2 separate regions of the Homo sapiens genome follow, and region 1 is reported to be linked to region 2. Evidence: microRNA targets listed by miRTarBase, many of them from high-throughput screens and not tested one by one. Region 2 holds a microRNA gene; the other region holds the end of a gene's coding sequence.

Region 1 (8,343 bases), not on the chromosome of region 2:
TTTTTGTCTCTCATCCTCGACCCCCAGGAGAGGAAGAGATGCTAAATCGTCGGTGCCCTCTGTCCACCTCTCACTCTCCTCACAACCCTCCGTTTTCCAGTCTGTGCTGGGGCAGGTCTGTCTGGATTTAGGGAGAAGCAGAACCACCTCCCATGCCATGGTTGGAAGGCAGAGGGTCTGGGTGGTCCCTCTTTAGATCTTGGCCTAGGCCTCGGACCTGATAAGGTGGGGGCCACTCTCAAGGGGTGCAGGCCAGGACCTGAGCCACGGAAGTCAGGGGCAGGAGGGTTAAGGTTTCATCCGAGGAACAGCCCGTTCCGGGCAGCCCCAGATGTTCTTTCTTGTTTCCAGATGTTCCAAATGAAAAAACATTTCTCTGAAAAGCTGTCAGATGTTCAGTTCATGGAATAAACAGCTCAGAAATATAAACATCACCTGAGGTCAGCTTGAGGCCCATGGGCCCGCATGCTGGTGAGGGTGGCTGGAGAGAGACTGACCCGGGGGGAGTGGGGCAAAATCTGGGAGTCTCATGGTTTAGGAAATACTCTTCCTGAGCCCCTAACGACAGAGTCCTTCATTAACTTTGGGGCTAGTGTCTCCCCAAAGTTGGGGGGTATAACTGGGAAAGGCTTGGGGCACACGTGTTTGTGGGGGGTGTGTGTGTGTGTGTATGTGCATGCTCACACAGGTGTGTTGCCTGGACCCTGTGGTGTGGGGCCTACTCTGGAGCTGGTCCTAGGGCTCAGCGGACTGTAGGGGGCACGGAGGTTGGTGGGGGGCAGTTGGCACCCATCCTCAGGTGACAGGTGCGCTAAAATCTCAGAAATCACCACTAAAGAACTTATCCAGGTAACCAAAAAAACTACCTGTACCCCAGAAAATATTGAAATAAAAAATTTAAAAAAACAAGTGAGAAGCAGCTCCCACTCCAGGGAGGGAAGACACACACATCCCGTGGACAAGGATGCAGATGTGGCCTTTGGGCTTCATTCCCATTCATGCCGGGCAGGGATCTGTTTTCAGGAGGGGCGGAGGCAGCGGGGGCCCCACCGCCTGCAGGGTTATTTGTCACATTTTGAGCCGTGCTGTTCCCTCACTGGTGACAACAGCCCTGAGCCCCATTTTGGGCTCATGATGCCCTTTTCTTCCCAGAACAGGAGGCCTCACAAGCCTACCCCTGCCTCTGCCCTCGGCTGCCCGGGGCTTCACATTCTGACTTCTGACGACACCTCCCTTTCCAGGAAGGCAACATCAAAATAAGGAATGGGGGCCAGGGTCGGGCGAAGGGACAAGGGGCTCAGGGGGTGGGGAAGCAAGAAGGCAGCGACCCCCAGCCACCCTAGGATGCCGGGAGGGGGAAGAACCTCAGGGAAAGAAGAGCTCAGACCCCTGCCTCCTTCTCCAGCCCAGGTGTCCTGGATCTGCTGGGCTGCTGTGACTGGGAAAAGACCTGCTAAGAAGGACGTGGGTTTGAGTCCTGACCCAGCAGTGTAGCAGCCAGGAAACCTCCCCAGGTTACCAGTGGTTCTCTACTAAGGGTGGCTCTGCCCCAACGGAGGGAGCGTCTGCACATGCATCAGGGCAATCGCGCTGGTCTCAATGACCGGTGGGTGCCTGGGGCGGGAGGGGCATTGGCTGGCAAAGCAGAGTTCCCTGCCCCACATGCCAACAGCACCCATGAGGCAACACCCATTCTTAACCTCTCAGTGACCAAGGTTCCTCATTTTCGTAAAATAGAAATAAGCCCAATAGCGCGTTTTTTTGTTGTTGTTTTCTGGGGTTTTTCTGAGACAAGATCTTGCTCTGTTGTCCAGGCTGGAGTGCAGTGGTGCAATCTCCATTCACGGCAACCTCTGCCACCTGGACTCAAGTGATTCACCCACCTCAGCCTCCCGAGTAGCTGGGACTACAGGTCATGCTACTACACCTGGCTAATCTGTGTATTTCTTGTAGAGACAGGTTTTACTATGTTGCCCAGGCTGGTCTCAAACTCCTGAGCTCAAGCGATCCACCCGCCTCAGCCTCCCAAAGTGCTGGGATTACAGGCGTGAGCCACTGCGCCCGGCCCCAACAGTGCGTTGGTCGAAGGGCAGCTGTGCACATTGAAGGCCATCCTGCATCTGAGGTACTTGGTGAATGTGGTGGACGGCACGCCCTGAGGAGGGCGAGGAGTGCGAGGAGTGGCACGGATGCCTGGGGAGGTGGGTAGCTGTGACTGTTGTCCCAAGTTGTCTCTGTTTCTCACCCAATATGAGGCCTTTTTTCTTCCACCATTCAAGGCTCAAAGGATGTGTGGGCTTGAGCACCCTGCGCTCTGCAAATCTTCCTGTCCCTGATGCCAGAGAGGGCTCCAGGCGAGGTCTGGAGGAACTTAAAGTGAAAAGAATGTCTCCAGTGTCATTTCTAATAGAGCTTATTTGGATCTTCTCTCTTTTCTTGGTTAATCTTGCTAATGGTCTATCAATTTTATCTTTTCAAAGAACCAGCTTTTTTTTTTTTTTGAGATGGAGTCTTGCTCTGTTGCCCAGGCTGGAGTGCAGTGGCATGATCTCAGCTCACTGCAACCTCCGCCTCCTGGGTTCAAGTGATTCTCCTGCCTCAGCCTCCCAAGTAGCTGGGACTATAGGCGTGCAACACTGCACCCAGCTAATTTTTGTATTTTTAGTAGAGATGAGGTTTCACCATTTTGGCCAGGCTGGTCTCAAACTCCTGTCCTCGTGATCTGCCCGCCTCGGCTTCTCAAAGTGCTGGGATTACAGGCATGAGCCACTGTGCCCGGCCCAACTTTTTGTTTTAATTGATCTTTTGTGTTGTTTGTTTCAATTTCATTTGGTTCTGCTCTGATTTTTCTCATTTCTTCTCTTCTGCTGGGTTTGAGTTTAATTTGTTTTTGTTTCTCTGGTACCTTGAGGCATTTGTGGTCTTCCAGAGTTTTTGATGTAGGCATTTAATGCTATGAACTTTCCTCTTACTACCACTTTTGCTGTATCACAGAGGTTTTGAGAAGTTGTGTCATTATCATTCATTTCAAAGAATTTTTAAATTTCCATCTTGATTTTATTGTTAACCCCCAAATCACTCAAGAACAGATTAATTTCCATATATTTGTATAATTTTGAGGGTTCCTTTTGGAGTGGATTTCTAGTTTTATTCCACTGTGGTTGGAGAAGATACTTGATATAATTTTGATTTTCTAAAAGACACATGCACACGCATGCTTATAGCAGCACAATTCACAATTGCAAAGATATGGAACCAACCTGAGTGCCTACTAACCTATGAGTGGATAAAGAAAATGTGGTATATATACACCTCTTTATGGAATACTACTTAGCCATAAAAAGGAGTGAAATAGGCTGGGCATTGTGGCTCACACCTGTAATCCCAGTACTTTGGGAAGCTGAGGTGGGCGGATCACGAGGTCAGGAGATTGAGACCATCCTGGCTAACCAGGTGAAACCCTGTCTCTACTAAAAATACAAAAAATTAGCCGAGCGTGGTGGCAGGCGCCTGTAGTCCCAGCTACTTGGGAGGCTGAGGCAGGAGAATGGTGTGAACCCGAGAGACGGAGCTTGCAGTGAGCCGAGATCGCGCCACTGTACTCCAGCCTGGGCGACAGAGTGCGACTCCGTCTCAAAAAAAAAAAAAAAAAAAAGGAAGCGAAATAGCATCTTTTTGCAGCAACCTGGTTGGAGCTGTAGGCCATTATTCTAAGTAAAGTAACTCAGGAATGGAAAACCAGATAGCATATGTTCTCACTTGTAAGTGGGAGCTAAGCTATGAGGATGCAAAGGCACAAGAATGATATAATGGACTTTGGGAACTCAGTGGGGGAACGTTGAGGGAGGGGTGAGGGACAAAAGACTACATATTGGGTATAGTGTACACTGCTCAGGTGTCAGGTGCACTAAAATCTCAGAAATCACCACTAAAGAAATTATCCAGGTAACCAAAAAAAAAACTACCTGTACCCCCAAAACTATTGACATAAAAATTTTGAAAAAAAAAGTAAGAAGAAGCTCCCACTCCAGGGAGGGAAGACAGCACCCTGGGACCACTCAGACAACCCTGTAGAGATTCTCCACACCTCCCCTCGCACTCACGCACAGAGAGCTGCAAGGTGGAAGGTGCCGCAGAGACAATGGAACGACACTGGGGGGCAGCCTGAGGGCCACTCCCCATCCCCCACGCCAGTGCTACATCACCTCAGGACCCAGGAAGAGAGGGTGCAGAAATCCTGAAAAGAATTAAGTGCTTACTTGTCTGGAAGAATACAGCCCTGGGAGTCAGAAGTTGTTACAGAAAATAAAATTACAGGCTGGGCGCAGTGGCTCATGCCTGTAATCCCAGCAACTTGGAAGACCGAGGCAGGAGGATCACTTGAGGCCAGGAGGTTGAGACAAGCCTGGGCAACAGAGCAAGACCCCATCTCTATAAAAAACCATCCAGGTGTGGTGGCGTGTGCCTGTAGTCCCAGGCTCAGGTGGGAGGCTCAGGTGGGAGGATTGTTTGAGCCCTGGAGTTCGAAGCTGCAGTGAGCCATGATTGCACCATTGCACTCCAGTTTGGGTGACAGAGTGAGACCCTATCTCAAAAAAAAAAAAAAAAAAGAAAGAAAGAAAAAGAAAATTACATACAAGATTATATTTCACTCTCTGGGGGCTGTGGGCTAAACTTGCCGCATAAGAATATTCTTAGTCACGGGTCCACGTGACCCTGGGCTATCTGGGGTCAGAAGTCAGTCCTGGGGTCAGCGCCTCTGAGGAGAGGGAGAGGCTGTGCTGTGTACCCCACAGGCACCTTGAGGCCTCTGAGATGGGCAGAGAAGTGAAGGGGCCTCTGGGGAGGAGGAGCTGGGGACACAGAGTCCCAACAGGGATCACCTGGAAGAGAGGGAGTGTGGTGCTGCCTGTTGTGGGAGCCAGGTCTTGACCCCTGATCCTATCTGGTCTCTTGGATTCCAGCTAAGGGGCTTTTGTAAGGAGGCTGGAGAGAGCTGGACTGGGCCAGAGCGGGGAGCTGGGGCCTCCTTATCCTGCCTGGCCCCCTGAGAGGCTCCCGTGTCTTCCACGTTTGGCTCCAATCCCCACCGACCCTTTCTGCTTCTCACTGCCCTCAGCCCCCATCCGCATCCACATGCTGACATGCAGAAGGGAGAAGCCACATACCAGAGGCACCAAGGAGGGTTTATTGTAAGAACTGTACAAAGGAGCCCGCCTGCTGGCCTGGCGTGGGACCTGTTCCCCACTGGACCAGGCAGGAATGGGCATCCGTCTGCAGGGGAGGGGCCACAGGCAGGGAGAGGCCGGACCCGGCTCATCTACTCTTCCTCTGCAACCTGCACACAGTCCGAGGAGAATATCCAATCAAACAGATTTCTGAGGCTCCAGGGGCTGTGCCAGCCCAGGGCCCAGGAGGGCAAGGCAGAGGGGCAATGTGCCAGGAAGGGGAGACTGCCCCCATTAGACGAAACTTCTGAAGGAAGAGATGGAAGGAGTGGAGGCCTCCTTCCATAGAGGAGACATAGGCAGGAGGCAGGGAGCAGGGCTGAGGCCATGGGTGTGACAACGAGAAACAGGAAGGGGAGGAGAGGGGAGTGAGAGAGAGGGCTGTTCAGGCAGGACTGGGAGCAGGTGAGAGAGCATGGTGGACAATAAAGACAACTCTGGCCCATAGGCATGGCATGTAGATGTGCACACACACACACGTGTTCACACACTCAAGCACACATACATGTCTTGTTTTGAAGGTTTTGCTGCTTCCTGAATTTTAATCAAACTTTTCATGAGAAACAAGAAGAAAAAGAAGAGGCACTTAGGCCAACAGAATGCCCTGAGTACACACCTTACCACATGCGTTCACACGCATCCACACACTCACAGCACAGGTCCACTCTCCCAGGCACGGGAACACTCCCAGGGACAGGCCTGCACAGTATGACACACCAGCCGTACTCCATGGACCTTGAAACAGTCCAGGGCACACATATATACACATATATACAAAGATACCCAGACACGTGCATAATGCAGGCTCCAGTACACAGTGGTTCACACACACACATACAGTCACGCACTTGAACACACACACAGCTATACACACAGGCCTATAAAAGCATACAAGCAGACACACAGCCACAGGTACACACACAAGTGAATAAATCCAGCGACGCCTGAGCAGGTCTCTCACCCCTCCTCCTGAGCCAGCAGAGGCCTGGCCCTGCCATGCCCAGAACAGCGATGCAGCAGAAGTGCTTCTTCAGGCCACAGGAAGTTGGAAGGTTGAGCCTGAACCAGTTGGGCCTTCCCTGCTGCACGCCCCAGGGTCGAAATATCTAACCTGAGCTCAACTGTACATTCTTAGGATCACTTTGGGGAGAGAGGTGGGAAAGGTGAGAAAGAGACGGGCGTGGGGAGATGAGAAGGGAGATCTCTGAGGCTGGATGAGGCTCCTGGAGCCCTGGTGGTGCTCACGGAGGAGTGAGGCAGGGAGAGAGGGAAGGGGCGAGAATCTTCTTACTGAGCAGCAGGTCCCTGACTCCCGCTCAGGTCTGGATGCTCAGGCCATGTGCAGCGATCCAGCTGGCAGGACCCAGCCTGTCTCACTCCCCCGTGCTTCCTAGAAAAGGACAATTCATTCCCAAGTGGCATCCTTCCTTCTGCTCTTCCCCTAGGAGCCAGCCAGGGGAGCTACGGACCTGGACGTGGCCTAGGAAGAGGTTTCAGGAGTCACCATCCCAGCCCAAAGCAGCAGGATCCAGTGGCCAATCAGGTTTTGAGGCTTTGAGGAGCTATTTCTGAACCAGTCACATTTCCCTTTTCCAGGGAATTCCTGAGCTGGCCTGGTGGGTGAAGCTGCACCCCAGAGTCAAAGGGGGTGGGCTGGCAGTGCCCTGGGGTTAGGTGTCTGCACTCCCTGAGGTTAAGACATCTTTGTCTGGGCTGGGGCTGAGGGGTCTGAGCCACTTCCTGGGGAGAGGCCAGTGACCCTTAAGACTCTGGTGATGGGGGGCAACTGATCCCTCCACCGCAGGCCAGCTCCTCCTCAAGTGAGGGGCAGAGATTCGAATGTTCTGACCTCCCCCAGGCCAAAAGGAGGGGCGACAGGGCCCAGAGGAGGTCAGAGCAACTTGCAGGTTAAATCTTGGAGGCAGGGGCCTCAGACCCAGCATGGAGCCCCTGAGCGCAATTCCCATTTCCCATGGTCTGGGAACGCAGGCGCTCGGGCCTGGGTGTCAGCCCCAGTGTGGCCAAATCCTGTCCCCCATCAGGGAGCCAGGCACAGTCCCAGATTCAAAGCCCTCCTCCCTCACTCTGTGTGCAGGCACCACGGGGGAGCTCTGGGGACTATGCCGAGACTCAGTGGGCCACCCCGATGCTGCCTGCTAGACAAGAGACTCCTTGACACCTGGGCGCACAGTCTGCCCTGGGGGAGGGGCGGGAGGCCAGGCAGTGTCTGAGGGGCTGATGGGCATCAGCCCCATAGTGGGTCCGGCGTCCCCTGCCTCGCCCTTCTCCTCCGGGCTTGGCGAGCTGCTGTTCCCATTCTCGTGGCCATACATCTTGCTCATGGTGTTGGCAAGCAGCCCCTCCTTCTCAGGGGCGTCATCCCCGCTGCCGTCGTGGCTGTGGCGGTACATGTAGGATGCCTGCTTCATGGAGCGCTGTAGCAGGTGCCGGCGGTAGGCCCTCTGGATCTTGATGGCGCACACCTCCTCGTGCTTCCTCTTGAGGGTGGTGGTGATGGGCTCGTAGGACACCTTGGAGGGGTTGGCTGCCATGAACTTCTCCTCCATGGTCTGCTTGAGGGCGTCCATTTCCCCAGAGTCACCCAGGACCTCTTTGGTCAGGGCAAAGAGGATGTCCAGGCAGTGGATCTTGTCCCCTGGCACCATGGGCAAGTCCAGTGTGATGAGCTTGATCTTGTTGGGCTTGGCAATCCTCAGCGGTTCCTGCAGGGTGTCCACGAAGTCTGAGAGGCGGCTGTAGGCGATGAACTGGGTGGCGTCGGGGTCGAACTTCTCCCATGTCTCGTAGAACATCTCAAAGTCATCTTCACCAAGGGGCTCGCTGCTCTCCTCTGTGGCCACATTGAAGTTCTCCAGGATGATGGCGATGTACATGTTGACCACGATGAGGAAGGAGATGATGATATAGCTGCAGAAGAAGCAGATGCCGATGGAGGGGTTGCCGCAGTCACCCTTGACACTGGTGCCCGGGTTCTCCAGGTTGGGGTCACAGTCTGGGGGCCCGCTGTTGAGGATGGGGTTGAGGAGCCCGTCCCAGCCGGCCGACGTGGTGATCTCGAACAGGCAGATGATGCTGTTGCCGAAGGTCTCGAAGT
Region 2 (13,025 bases):
TTCAGAACCTGACCTTCAGGTAAGATGTTATTTCACTGGAGGAGAACTTAATAGGTCCACTCAGAATTCATGGCAAGCAGGTCATGGCCTGAGAAGCAGAGGGGCGAGTCTGCTGAGAGCCAGTGGCAAAGCAGAGATATGCAGCGAGAAACAGGGATGAGGCCAGGCACAGTGGCTCATGCCTGGAATCCTAGCACTTTGGGAGGCCAAGGCAGGTGGATCACTTGAGGCCAGGAGTTCGAGACCAGCCTGAGCAATATGACAAAAACCCATCTCTAACAACAACAACAACAACAACAACAAAAACACAAAATGTTAGCTTGGACGTGGTGGCGTGCACCTGTGGTCCCAGCTACTTGGGAGGCTGAGGTAGGATCTTTGAGCCTGGGAGGTGAAGGCTGCAGTAAGCTGCAGTCGCACCACTACACTCCAGACTGGGTGACAGAGGGAGACTCTGTCTCAAAAGAAGAGAAAGAAACAGGGATGAGAAATTAGAGAACTCTGTTCAGGCTCCTGGTGATTCCCATTCCTGGTTCTGCCCCACTCTGAGATATGGCGGCATCCCAGAGTCCTAAAGATATCCCAAGATCCTTCTAATACACACAACGCCTCCCCGTGCCCTCCACCCTGGCTTGCCTGTTAGCTACCTACAACACCAAGGCTCCTAACAAGAACACTAAGTATTCAGACAGAATAATATGACAGAATTCTGAAAGCCTTAGAGATCAAGGGTGACCCTTGGGGGCAGTCCTGAGAGGCCATTTGCAGACTAACAGTTGCCTTGAGGTAGTCTGCAGGGAGGGAGAGCAAAATAAAGCACAGTCAAAACACAACGAGACACAAGAAGAGTGACACAGAGAGAAGGTGCCTCATGTCCTGAAGGATTCCAGTTTTCAATTTCACCATGGGTTCCATGATCCCACTCTAAATCATCCCTAAAAATTCCCTCTGTTACTTATAACCAAAGACACCCTACAAGGAGTACTTTTTAAATATTTTAGGCCAAAGAAGAAGTTTCTGAACTCTCAATAATTTACTTGTGACCCACGAATTGCAGAACAATGCAATTCGCTTACCCTACGCATCCCCTACCCAAATGCTCAGAGGGTCTATGTCTTCACCTCCACACCCCAGTCACCCTAGTCAGCAACTGGCAGGATCATTTTTGCACAGAATCGGAATTTTAGCACTTCACACAGTCCAAACTACTAGGAATGGAGACTGTACTAAAGTCGAAGGACTCTTAACCACATTATGAGTCATAAATAAAGAGCTTGCATTTATCACTTAAACACTTCTAAACCATGTCTCTTTTTTTTTTTTTTTTTTGGTAGTTGTTGCTCTGTCTTGGAAAAGCAGCACAGATAACACAGCTTTCAGAATAAAATCCTCGCATATAAAGGGCAAAAATGTATGGGTGTTTGAGCAATGAACTGGATCCTAGCAGAGGCATTACAAAGGACTCTGTGGGAAAGGTTCCATAGTATCCACAGTCCCACTGAACACATTCTCAATGTGCCATGATGCAAATCCAACATGATGATCGTTTGGTGTGGGTTCTCCCACCCCCACAGAGTGTGGTGGGAGAAGACACCCTCTATATAGTGTCCCATTTTCCCCAGTGGCAACACATGTGCAGAATAGCAGCGATGACGGCCACGCAGAGATGTAGAAGTGACTTAACACCCCTGCTGACTCTGCCTCCTGCCCACCTGAGCCATGGAGGGAAGGTCTGCCAACTGTCCCAGGATGTCAGGTGGACGTGGGAAAGGCGAGTAGAAGACTGAGGCCAAGCGAGCCAGCGATCCCTAAATAAAAGGTGCCACTGGGGTTTTAACTTCCTTTAAGGTCCTAACCAAGGCCTGGGTACTAAATGAAACAAAGAGGCTCTAAAAAACTTGTCACTGCAGACGGTTGAAATGATGCACAGCCAATCTGCCTCCCGAAAGACAGATGATCAAGGCAGAGCCCAGCAGCCAGCAAGGCGAACTCAGTTCCAGCTGGATTTAGGGTCAAAAGGTGGCCGAGGCATTGCCTTCCCAGAAGGAGTGAGTCACGAGGAAAGACTGAAAGCGAGGCAAGGTGGTGGATTTGTTTTTCCCCCAGCTCAGTGTGGGTATTGGCTCAGCAGTATGGAAAAGTGTACTAGAAGGGAGTGAAGGAAGTGTGCATTCCAGAATGAATGGAAGATGCAGGATAATGAATGGCACCAGGCAGGCGCAGAGGCCAAGTCGGAGAAGCATGCAGTGACCTGCACAGCTAGAAGGGGCTGGGCTGCCTTGACTGACCCAGATGGGTCAGACAGAAAGACGGTGTTTTTTTGGCACAGGTTCTGGAACTCAACAGAGTCAAGGACCAGCCCTGGCAGCCAATATCTGGGTGACTTGCCTCAGCCTCTGGAATTCTCAACTGCTTCATCTTTGAAATAGGGACAAGAATAATACCTCCTCTAATGAAGCTGCTAACATGTATTTAAAGCTTTTTGTAGCAACAGCACAGAGGTTGGCAAACTACTAGCCTGTAGGCCAAATCTTTCTGACCACCTGCTTTTTACAGGCCATGAGCTGAGAGTGATTTTTACATTTTTATATGGTTGAAGAAGACAATGAAAATACTATTTGGTGACACATGAACACGATGTGAAATTGAAATTTCGGTATTCATAAATAAAGTTTTATTGGAACACAACCACACCCAGTCACTTACAGATTGTCTATGGCTGCTTTTGCACTACAATGGCAAAACTAAGAGAGCTGAGAGACTGTATGGCCTGCAAAGCCTAATGGATTTACTATCTGGCCCTTTACAGAAATTTGCTGACCCCTGCATTAGCCAAAAGAGAGCACAATCAGCAGTGCCTCATTCTACAAGTAAAGAAATGCAGACAGATCGTGAAATCTTTTTATTAAGATACAATTCACATGCCATAAAATTCACCCTTTTAAACAATAGAACTGAATGGATTTTAGTATATTCAACGGTTGTGAAACCATCACCACAATATAAGTTAGAAGATCACCACCCCCAAAAGAGATCCTATACCCATTAGCAGTCTCTCCCCATTCCTCTCTCTCCAGCTCCCTGCAACTACAAATCTACTTTGTGTCTTAATGGATTTGCCAGTTCTGGATCTTTCTTATAAATGGAATTGAATATGCGGTCCCTTGGTGTCTGGCTTCTTTTAGTTAGCACAATGTTTGCAAAGTTCATCAATGGTGCAGCAGGAGTACTTCATTCCTTTTTGTGGCTGAAAAACACTGCATTGCAAACATTCATCACATTTTGTTGATCCACCAGTTGATAGACATCTGAGTTGTCTCCACTCTTTGGCTATTATAAATCATTCTCCTATGAACATTTATGTACAAGCTTTTCTGTAGATAGACAATTTCATTCCTCTTGGGTTCATATGCAGGAGTAGAAATGCTAGGTCCCAGTTTATCTATTTGTTCTTTGTTGCGTGTGGTTTGGTTTCACATCTAAGAAACCACTGCCTTATCCATGGTCATGAAGAAGATTTATTCCTATAATTTCTTCTAAGAGTTTTCTATATTTAGGTCTTAATACTTTCGGGTCTTCGATGTGTATGTTGTAAAGTAGAGGTCCAACTACATTCTTTTGCACGTGAATATACTGTTTTTCTCAGCATCATCTGTTAAGAAGACTATTCTTTCTCCACTGAATTGGCTTGGCACCCTTGTTGACAATCAGCTGACCATAAATGTAAGGGTTTATTTCTTGACTCTCAATTCTATTCCATTGATCTGTATCTCCATACTTATTCTCGTACCATACTTTCTTGATTATTGTAGCTTTGTTTTAGGTTTTTTTATTTTTTATTTTTTTGTTTTTATTTTTTTTTTGTTTGAGATGGGGTCTCGCTCTGTCGCCCAGGCTGGGGTGCAGTGGCGCAATCTTGGCTCACTGCAAGCTCCGCCTCCCGGGTTCACGCCATTCTCCTGCCTCAGCCTCCCTAGTAGCTGGGACTACAGGCACCTGCCACCATGCCCAGCTAATTTTTTTTTTTTTTTTTGTATGTTAGTAGAGATGGGGTTTCACCGTGTTAGCCAGGATGGTCTCGATCTCCTGACCTCGTGATCCACCTGCCTCAGCCTTCCAAAGTGCTGGGATTACAGGCGTGAGCCGCCGCGCTCGGTCATCTCTGTTCTTTTTCAAGTGTTTTGGCTATTCTGGCTTCCTGGCATTTCCATATGACTTTTAGCATCAATCTATCGATTTCTGCCAAAAAAAAAAAAATACCTGGGATTTTGGTAGGGACTGCAATTAAATCTGTAGATCAACATGGAGAGTGCCACCTTGATAACAATAAGTCTTCCAGTCTATGAACATATGATATCTTTCCATTTACTTAGGTCTTTAACTTCTTTCAAGAATATTTTGTAGTTTTCAGTGTATGAGTTTTATACTTCTTTTATTATATCTATTCCTAAGTATTTTTGATGCTATTGTAAATACAATAGCTTGAAATCTTTTTTATTAGCATAAATTTTAAGTTGGAATTGTAGAAAGTCAATCAGTAGATGTACAAGAAACAAGGACCAAAGCCTAACAGAAATCGAAGGTAAAACTAAAGCTGGATTTCAGGGAGATACTATATGTCAAGATTCATGTCAGGCTTTTTAAGCTTCATGAGAGCACAAATAGTGTCTGTCTTGCTTATCCTGCACACCTAGCACATAGTAGACATCTAAATAAACACCTGTTGAATGAACAAAGTTTATCAGTAGCAGAAAACACTTAAAATCTGTATTTTCTAATCTAGGCAATAAATATGCCCTTAAATATTCATTTCTTCAAGCCCTAGGTTGGTCTTAATGGTGTGCATTGAAGATATTACTGACGATAATGAGGCAAAATATTCTCAAGCATGACACAAGTTTGGTGAGGGCCCCTGCCAGGTGACAAATCCCCTTTAGTCTTTCCCAGCTAGAAAGTTCAAGACAATGTCACTAGACAAGGAAGAGAATAAGAGTAAGCAGGAGAGGAAGCACCTGAGCTTTTTGCAAACAGCACTGGTCCGCCAGACAATGATGTAAACAACGTCTAATGACACCCAAAGGTAAAACAAGAAATGCTGCAGAAGGTGCTAGAAAAGAAAGAGTGAAGGGGGGACAAGAAGGGTGAGAAACACAAACCAATCTACAGGAGAAAAATGTTGAAACTCAAGGCTAAATATGGCATTTATCACTACTTTCCTTTGTTGTCAAGGGTAACAGATAATCAATTAAAATAATAAACTTTCGTTAAGGACAAGAATACTGTATGTGCTGCAGGGGCACCATGCTAAGTGTCTCATGTACATAATCTCATTAACTTCTTGGGACAACCTTAAGGCAAGTATTATTATCATCACGATTCTAGAGCAGGGACAACAGAGACCTGGAGATGTCAGGGTAATTCACCTAAGGCCTCGCTTCTCCAAACTGCCACCGTTGGCATTTAAACCCAGGTCTCCTGACTCCAAATGTGTGCACTATGCTGAATATGTATGAATACAGACATACACGCATATTGTGTACACTTACAAGTGTAGCAAATATCCAGTGCCCTAATATGGTGGTGAATATGTTTAGTTACTAATGTGAATCCAAACACCAATGAAAGATTAGAAGGAAACAAGGTTTTTAGGACCACAAGTTAAAGAGGTAGGAGAACATTAACAAAAAGGTTACAAATATCTTGCCATTAAAACCCCACAAACCATGAAGCCTGAGATTCCATTGTTTCCTGCAGCCACTGAGGCAATGCTGGCTTTGAGTCCTGAATCTGTCTCAACCGTGGTATGTAACTTTGGACAAGTCCCTTCTTTTAGCAAACTGCACTGCCCTAATTTATAAGGCCATTGCCAAGTCTAGGATTCTACCAATTCATGCTTTTTCCAAGCTTTCAATTATTAGGTAATCAACTTTCATCGCACACCTATTTACACCTTTACCAAACTCACTGGTCAATTATAATTCTCAGTCCCTGTTAAAAGAGAAGAATAATATTTGGGCATATGTAGACATACCCTAGAAGAGAAAAGCATTTTTTAATGAAAATAAAAAAAGAAGGGTATGGGAGTTGGGTGGAGAGATTTACTCTGATAAAGTACATCTTGAGCCCTTTCTTTCCTGGCTGGTCCATATTTCTAAATCATTTCCTTGCTTTCACATAGTAAATTTTCTGCTAGATGTCTAGATATGCTGGAGATCAGGTTACAGTGTGAAGGACAAAAGATAAAAACAATCTGCATACTTCCATCTGGCTCTTCAGAACAAAGTCTAGAGACTTGAAATGTGAGGAGAGAAGCATGCTACTCTAGCTGCACAACAGATACAGCAAAATGTCACAGAAACAAATCTTTCAAGAGAATCCGAGATGCTGGAATGCGTATTTCACCAGAATTTACTCCGAGAGCATTAAAAAAAAAAAGTTAAGGCTCAGATACTGAACACAATGTTGCCTCTGTTACAAGAAGATGAAAAGTTGAAACAGACCAATGCATTAGAAAGTCCATACTGTACTGCAGAGATGCTATTCTTATTGCTGTCAAAAGACTCCTGGTTTTAAAACAAACAAAAAAACACCTTCTAGATTATTTATTCAGACGGTCTTGCCTAGTTTTTAGGACTCAAAAGTCAACACTCGAGGTTTGACTCTGGTCAAACTACTCCTTTGCCACATGGCATCACGCCGCGCGAGACAGATTTTCAGTATGAAAGAAACCAGCAGTTTCCAATACAAACATGGGCTTTCCAATATATAAAATTTAAGAAAAGCCAGGGTCTGTATAGAAAACATTAAACTGGCTTATATATCAAAATCATGAGGTTTAAGCAGAAATGCAGCATTAAAATAATTTACAAAATGGCTCAACAATGAACATTTTCCTCTGTGAAAAAAACAACACCCTTAATGTTTTTCATATGGCACATAAATTTTACAATACCTGCAGGAATATTTTCATTGGTTAAACCAACACCATAGGTCTTTTTAGCTCTTAAGCATATTACGATTCTTGCCTTTTTATGGCATTTTTGTTGTTGTTTGCACCCAATGTAATAAGCTTTTGAGAACAAGAAACAAACCACAATAAAAAGAAAAAAGAACTACCCCTTTGTAACTGCAACTTTCACAAGAGGGGTGGGGGAGCAGAGCGATCGAAATCTCGTTTTTATAGCTGCTATCTTGATGCAATTAGTGTAAAATAATTGTCTGCACAGGCCAAAGTAGAGGCTAAGTTGAGGCACTTGAGTGCATTCCCGAAAATGATTTCCCTGCCTCTTCCTTCAGCCTGCTGCAGCAGATGTTGGCTGTTAAGCCGCACAGACGACACAGTTCATGACTTTTCTAAGACGGCTGTGTGCCACATCTGCAGTTGATGAAATGGAGAGCAGAAGTGTGGCAGACACACAGAGGAGAGTGTGAGCGAGGCAGGCAGGCGCAGGCTGGGCCAAAGGAACTGTCTTGAAGGCTGGCCTAAAAATAGACACATACTCACACTCCTCCCTCCGCAGCCAGCTCATAAAACCCGGCCTGCCTGTCCTATTATGGAGTCAGCCTATGGCAGACACTTCCTGCATCCAGCTTGGGCTGCAGATAACACAAAAGCATGGAGGCAAGAGTGGAGGGGAGCAGGCGGTGTAGCATCCTCAAACTGCAGCTTCGCTCTCCGAGCCTCGGTATAACTGGGCTGTGGTCCAAGTTCAGCTGGGCCCCCAGAGAAAGGCAATGCTTGTGTTTAGCCCGCACAATACTGACATAACATTAACAGATTTACATATGCAAAACTGTGAAGCAACAGGCATTCCCCCTCAATTGACCCACAGCTTGTAGTGTCTGCCGAGTTATTCCCCGCTTCGGCTCTGTAACCAAGTGGGCGGCATGCGAATACCATCTGGGTACCACTTATTGAAAACTGGCAGTCGCTCTGTAATAGGCAAGCTGGCAATAAGAGGGAAGGGAATAAATTGCATCATTTAGTTAACATCCACTTGCTTTGCGGCTGTTAAAAAACCATGACTGAATAATAATTTGGTTATTTCTTTTGCCAGAAACTGCTGTCAGCCAAATTGTACTACGCACGCTGCAGAAGTCGACTTGCAAAATTTCCACTTGAGAAGGGACTGAGGAGGATTGGGGCAAAATGGGCACCAACCTCTGGCTGTTAGCAGTGGCGACTCCTGCTGCACAGTGGCTCTGTGTCCTCCAAGTGTCATCATCCCAAATGTAGTTGACACCAAGCCCTGGTTAGCCACCTGGCCATGCTGAGCCCCAGCACCAAGCTGTGATGTGTGGTAACACCCTCAAGCAGCTCAGATCCAAGGGTGTATGTGACAAGTGGCATCTACGTGACTCTCAGCTAGCCGTGGAGGCACATGTGGCCAAGCAAAGCTTGAGCTGACATCCCCCAGTTTCTGCCTCAAAACAGAGTGGGGAAGCAGGTCCACAGAAAGCCTGAGAGCTGCAGGCCTATATCCCTCTACTTCTGTGCCTGGAGCAGGCAGACTGAATCATTTCTTTCTGGTTTACTCACCTGCTTTCAAATACAACTAACAAAGAAAGTGACAGAAACCTTAGACCACCACATAAAGGTAGAAGTGATCTTCATTCAGTAAAACCCATGTGTTTGAAGTGGTTCTCTTTTGAATATATTTGTAAAGATATGAAATTCTCTTATTTACTATATGCTGTGCCTGTGTGTGTTTACACACTATATATACACATATACACACATGTATGTGTGTATACACACATATACACACATATACACACATATATGTGTGTATACACATACATATACACACATATATGTGTGTATTTCTATTACTTTCCTTTACTATGTCTTTTAGGAAAATCAGAGCCGAATACATACAAGTGACCAATGCCGTAGCAGTATTAAAAAGATATAAGTACTTAAAAGATATAAATAAAAATATATAAATCCTTCTATAAAGGTTAGAAATATTTTATGATATAAATCCAGTTATAAAATATGTATTTATTTCTTTTAATAATTTATATCATCTATAAACTGCTATAGCATTGGTCAATTACATATATTTCCACTTTGACTTTTTAAAAAGATGTATCAAAGGAAAGTAAAGAAATGGAAAAAAAAAAAAAGGAAAATTTGGAACAAAAAAAAGGAAAAAGCAGGAAAGACTAGACAGACTCTGCTGATCGTGGAAGTACTACAAGTGAACAAAGTTTGATCAAATTCAAAGAAAAAAGGAAGATGAGAACATTTGCAGTGACACCAATGGCAAAAACATACGTTTCCAAAATCCAAACCTGAAGCACTTGGGAAGGAATGGCTAAACAATCTTTCAAAGCCCAAGACATTTAAAGACCACTCCATTTTATATGTGGGGTGGTCTTTCTGAAAAATAACACAGTTGGCTGGTCATGCATTAAAATAAGCAGAATATGATCACAAAGAGGTAAGAGAGACAAAGGAGACAAGACCAAATCGTCATGTATTTTACAAATCACAACTGTTGTAAGTTACCATATGATTAAGTGAAACTTGGATAATAGTTCTTTTCCAGGCAATGAGGGTAGTCAAGAAAGATAATAGGGCTTTTTTTTTCCAGATTCAGCTTATGATTGTAATCTCACCTTGCTCTAAACAGCTTAGAAGGCAAAGAAAAGACAAAGTCAATTCTGTATCTAGAGACATAAAAAAATGTTAAGACTGTAAAGCAATACGCTGAATTTGCTTCTTGAAAGGATGAGAAAGAAAATGATATTTCCAAGTCACCACGCTTGCAGTCTGTTAAAAGGAAGCAAAATAGCGATTTTAACCAGGACCATGGGTGGTAAAACAATTTTTTTTTTATTAAAAATAACCATTTTATTTACACATGTACATGCGCGCATATGCTCCCTGAAAAAAATCAGCATGCTGTCATGGAAATACCACTGGTCTGAGGGAGAGAAGGACTGGTTTTCACCAAAGCTCAGCCACTTTCTAGTTGAGTAAGTGACCTTGGGTAAGTCACAGTTTGTCTGGGCCTAATTTTCTTTTCTTTGGGAAATAGTGATATGTAACAAAGCAGTGTTAGAATTTCCCAAATCTGAGAGAAATAATGGTTTTCCTAATAGCTCTTTATTGCACATTTATCATTCCAAAATGTAAATCCATCCTATGAAAATAAATGAATCAGAGTTACACAAGATTTCAAAATTACTCTCATTTTACTTTGCAAATTACACTTAGGGTAAATATTGATGGGGTTTTGTTTGTTTTTAAAAATACACATGCTGAAGGACTGAACTGCCTTATGCAAATATTTATCTTCTAGAACATTATATGCTCCTTAATGTTTGTTTAAAATCCTAAAAGTTTTCAGTAACTGCAAGATTTCTATTTAATATGCAATTCCATAATAAATAGCTATAATATAAATTTAACCTATATATATCGTTTTCGCAATAGGTAGGAACCAAAAGTAAAAGTCTGAAGAACCTACAACCCAAATATGATGTAAGCCAGCTTAAGATTTTGGAAAATATTACATTCCTAGAAAACAGATTTTTAAGCTATTGCCATGTCCCTTTTGTTGCTGCATATTTAAAAGTAATCACACTCTCCCTGGTTTTCACTGTTTTATTCATCTTAAGCTCCTCTACCAGTGAACCATGGGCACAGGTTTCCAGAAATCACTTTAAATGTTGCATATATCCTGGCAAAAGTCCAAAATTCTAGCCAACATCAGTATTTTCGAGTTAACCTTAATCAACTCTATTGCCTTTCAAAAGTGGAGACAATGCACTTGACCCTTGTTCCATGGAGTATGTGTGTGTGGCTTTTCCCCAGGAGGGGTCATGGATTTGCATTAATCCATACAACACCTTCCCCCACCCACCTCCCCACACTCCAACATCCAACTGCAGACATTCACAAGCCAGCTGGCGAGGGTTAGTGGTCGGTGGCCAGGTAAGAGAGTGAAGGTAACTGGTCCACAAGAGGCAGGAATTCCCACTTTGGCCTCATTAGCAGCAGGGCCAAGCAGCCAAGGCTAAAGTTAACATTCACGAAATACACCTGGCTAATCTTGTAAAGAATAAAGATTTGCTCATTAACTGAGCTTAGAGAAAGGTGTGACCCACAAAACCGAAGAGCTATTTTCAGGTCCTTAATGGTCCAAATTTCGTGATCAAGTTACAAATTCCATGTGGTTCTTCATAAGGTCCCTTTAAGAAACTTTTCGATGATGGAACAGTGGAGCCTCTGGCCATGTCATTCATATACACACAGAGATGCACAAACACCTACCCACCACTTCTATGATGCAGGGTTGAATAAAGCTTAATGGAAGTTAACCTTCTAGCCTGGGTGCAAGATACCCAACCACCGAGATGCTGTTCATCAGGTACCCCAATGCAGCGAAGCACACCTCCAAAGCCTTGCTGAATGGCACTAGCACCAGTGCCACTCCTTGCTCATTTCTAAGAGGCTCCTGGACAGTGAAGTCAGGGAGCTGCCTAGCCTCTGCAGCCCACTCTAAACGGACGATGATTTGCTGATGGTGATTTCTCCTGCAAGGACTACCCAGAGCCACTAATGGAGGCAAGCGCTGGCTTGTTGCTTGAGCTTTCATCTGAAAATAAAACTGAAGGGTCAATTTTCATCATGAGCTTGAGAAAAGAAGGAAATTGCAAAGAAAGGAAGGGGAGAGAGACAGAGACACAGAGAGGAAGAGAGAAAGGAAGGAAGGCAATTGCTTGCTACGAAGACAAAACAAATTGTGAAATCTAGAAATAAATACTCAGGGCTGAATTCTAACACAACTGTCACTGCTGTCAGTTTTAGGAAATAAAACTCTTATGAAATACAAAAAGGTTCAAGGGGGAATTCAATCTATCTGAGTTTTACATAAACTAAAAATTACAGGTTTCTGAAACAGTTGGGATTAGCATTCTTCTTAGGTAGTTTAGGAAAGGTTACCCTTTCCTCCCCTTCATTTTAACACTGTGAGGGGTCTGCCTGCCTACCAAAATGCAACCAGTGCAGCCCCAACCACCAGATCAAGGAACAAACAGTGCAGGACTAGACAGCAGGTTTGTGGAAACCCAGCAAGAACGCTCTTCTTTGAGGAAAGGAGGGCTTGGCAGGTAAACAACCATATCAGGCCTTATCCAAAAAGAAGGTAGAGGTGGGGCCTCTAGGGCGAGGCCCAGATGGTCTCCACGGATTGCTGTGCTCCTTTGGGCCCCGTTTGACCTCTTTTTAAAGGGCTCTGAATACCACTAGGGAACCAATGTCACCCAGCAAGGGCCACTCAGAGCCACACTTAAGGGGCAATGCATGTATTTTCTTCCTTCTATGACATTAGAAGGCAACTTGCTGTTCTTGGGGCCCAAGGCAGAGAAGAATGTGAACACACAAAGTTCTTGTAGAGAATTAGTCCTGGCACAATTACCTAATGGCCTCTTCAACCAAACACCTGGTTGGCTACTTATCAGTAGCAACCCTATAAGCAACCCATTCCAGCAAGGTCCAGAGAGAAGAGAGGACAGCTGTGACTATTCAATCCTTTGGTGGTCATCATCACCTCCCATATTTATGAGGCCTTTTGGCCACAATGGTCTGAGCTCTTGTTGTGTACATCTTTATTAGTTGGAAGAAAAGGTCTAAGGTTTCTTTCCCAACTCAGAGAAGTCCTCTTAAACCAAACTGACTTAGCCAGCCCCAGGTCAGTACAAACAGTCAATTTCATAAGAGGACAAAGGGCTTTGGAAAAGAAGTGAACAGAGAGAGAGGATGAGGCAATCTGCAGTTCCTCTTTGGCTGGGGCCTCTCAATGGGGCCTCATTCTTTGTCTCAAAGATAGACAGGAATTCCAGCATGGACAACACCCCCAAGTTTAAATATACCTTTGAAAATGTGGGTGACTGGCAGATTATTGTAAACCACTGATCATCACCATTAATGTGGGTGTTTTAAAAAGTTGGCCCTATGAATGGAGGTTGAATGCAAGATCCAGCTCTAGTTTAAAACTAAACACACACATACA

Evidence for each region. Region 2 holds the annotated microRNA hsa-miR-1284 (UCUAUACAGACCCUGGCUUUUC, at 6,777-6,798, opposite strand). A microRNA usually pairs through its seed, bases 2 to 8, with sites in the 3' UTR of a target mRNA and lowers its output. Matches are read on the target gene's strand: a 7mer-m8 pairs with bases 2 to 8, a 7mer-A1 pairs with bases 2 to 7 and ends in A, and an 8mer does both.
Region 1: the mRNA of SCN4A is a reported target of hsa-miR-1284. Seed matches in the 3' UTR shown: 7mer-m8 at 6,093-6,099.

The regions. Positions count from the first base shown.
Region 1 is chr17:63,933,387-63,941,729 of GRCh38, forward strand. SCN4A (sodium voltage-gated channel alpha subunit 4) reads right to left here. Exons shown (of 24, transcript NM_000334.4): 24 at 5,168-8,343. The coding sequence ends at 7,385. Among named protein-coding and RNA genes, the nearest start is that of CD79B, 5.2 kb to the left of the region's middle. RefSeq lists enhancers at 195-1,799, 195-454, 196-600.
Region 2 is chr3:71,535,263-71,548,287 of GRCh38, forward strand. MIR1284 (microRNA 1284) reads right to left here and starts at 6,827; the gene lies at 6,708-6,827. The region is part of intron 2 of FOXP1 (forkhead box P1); the gene reads right to left.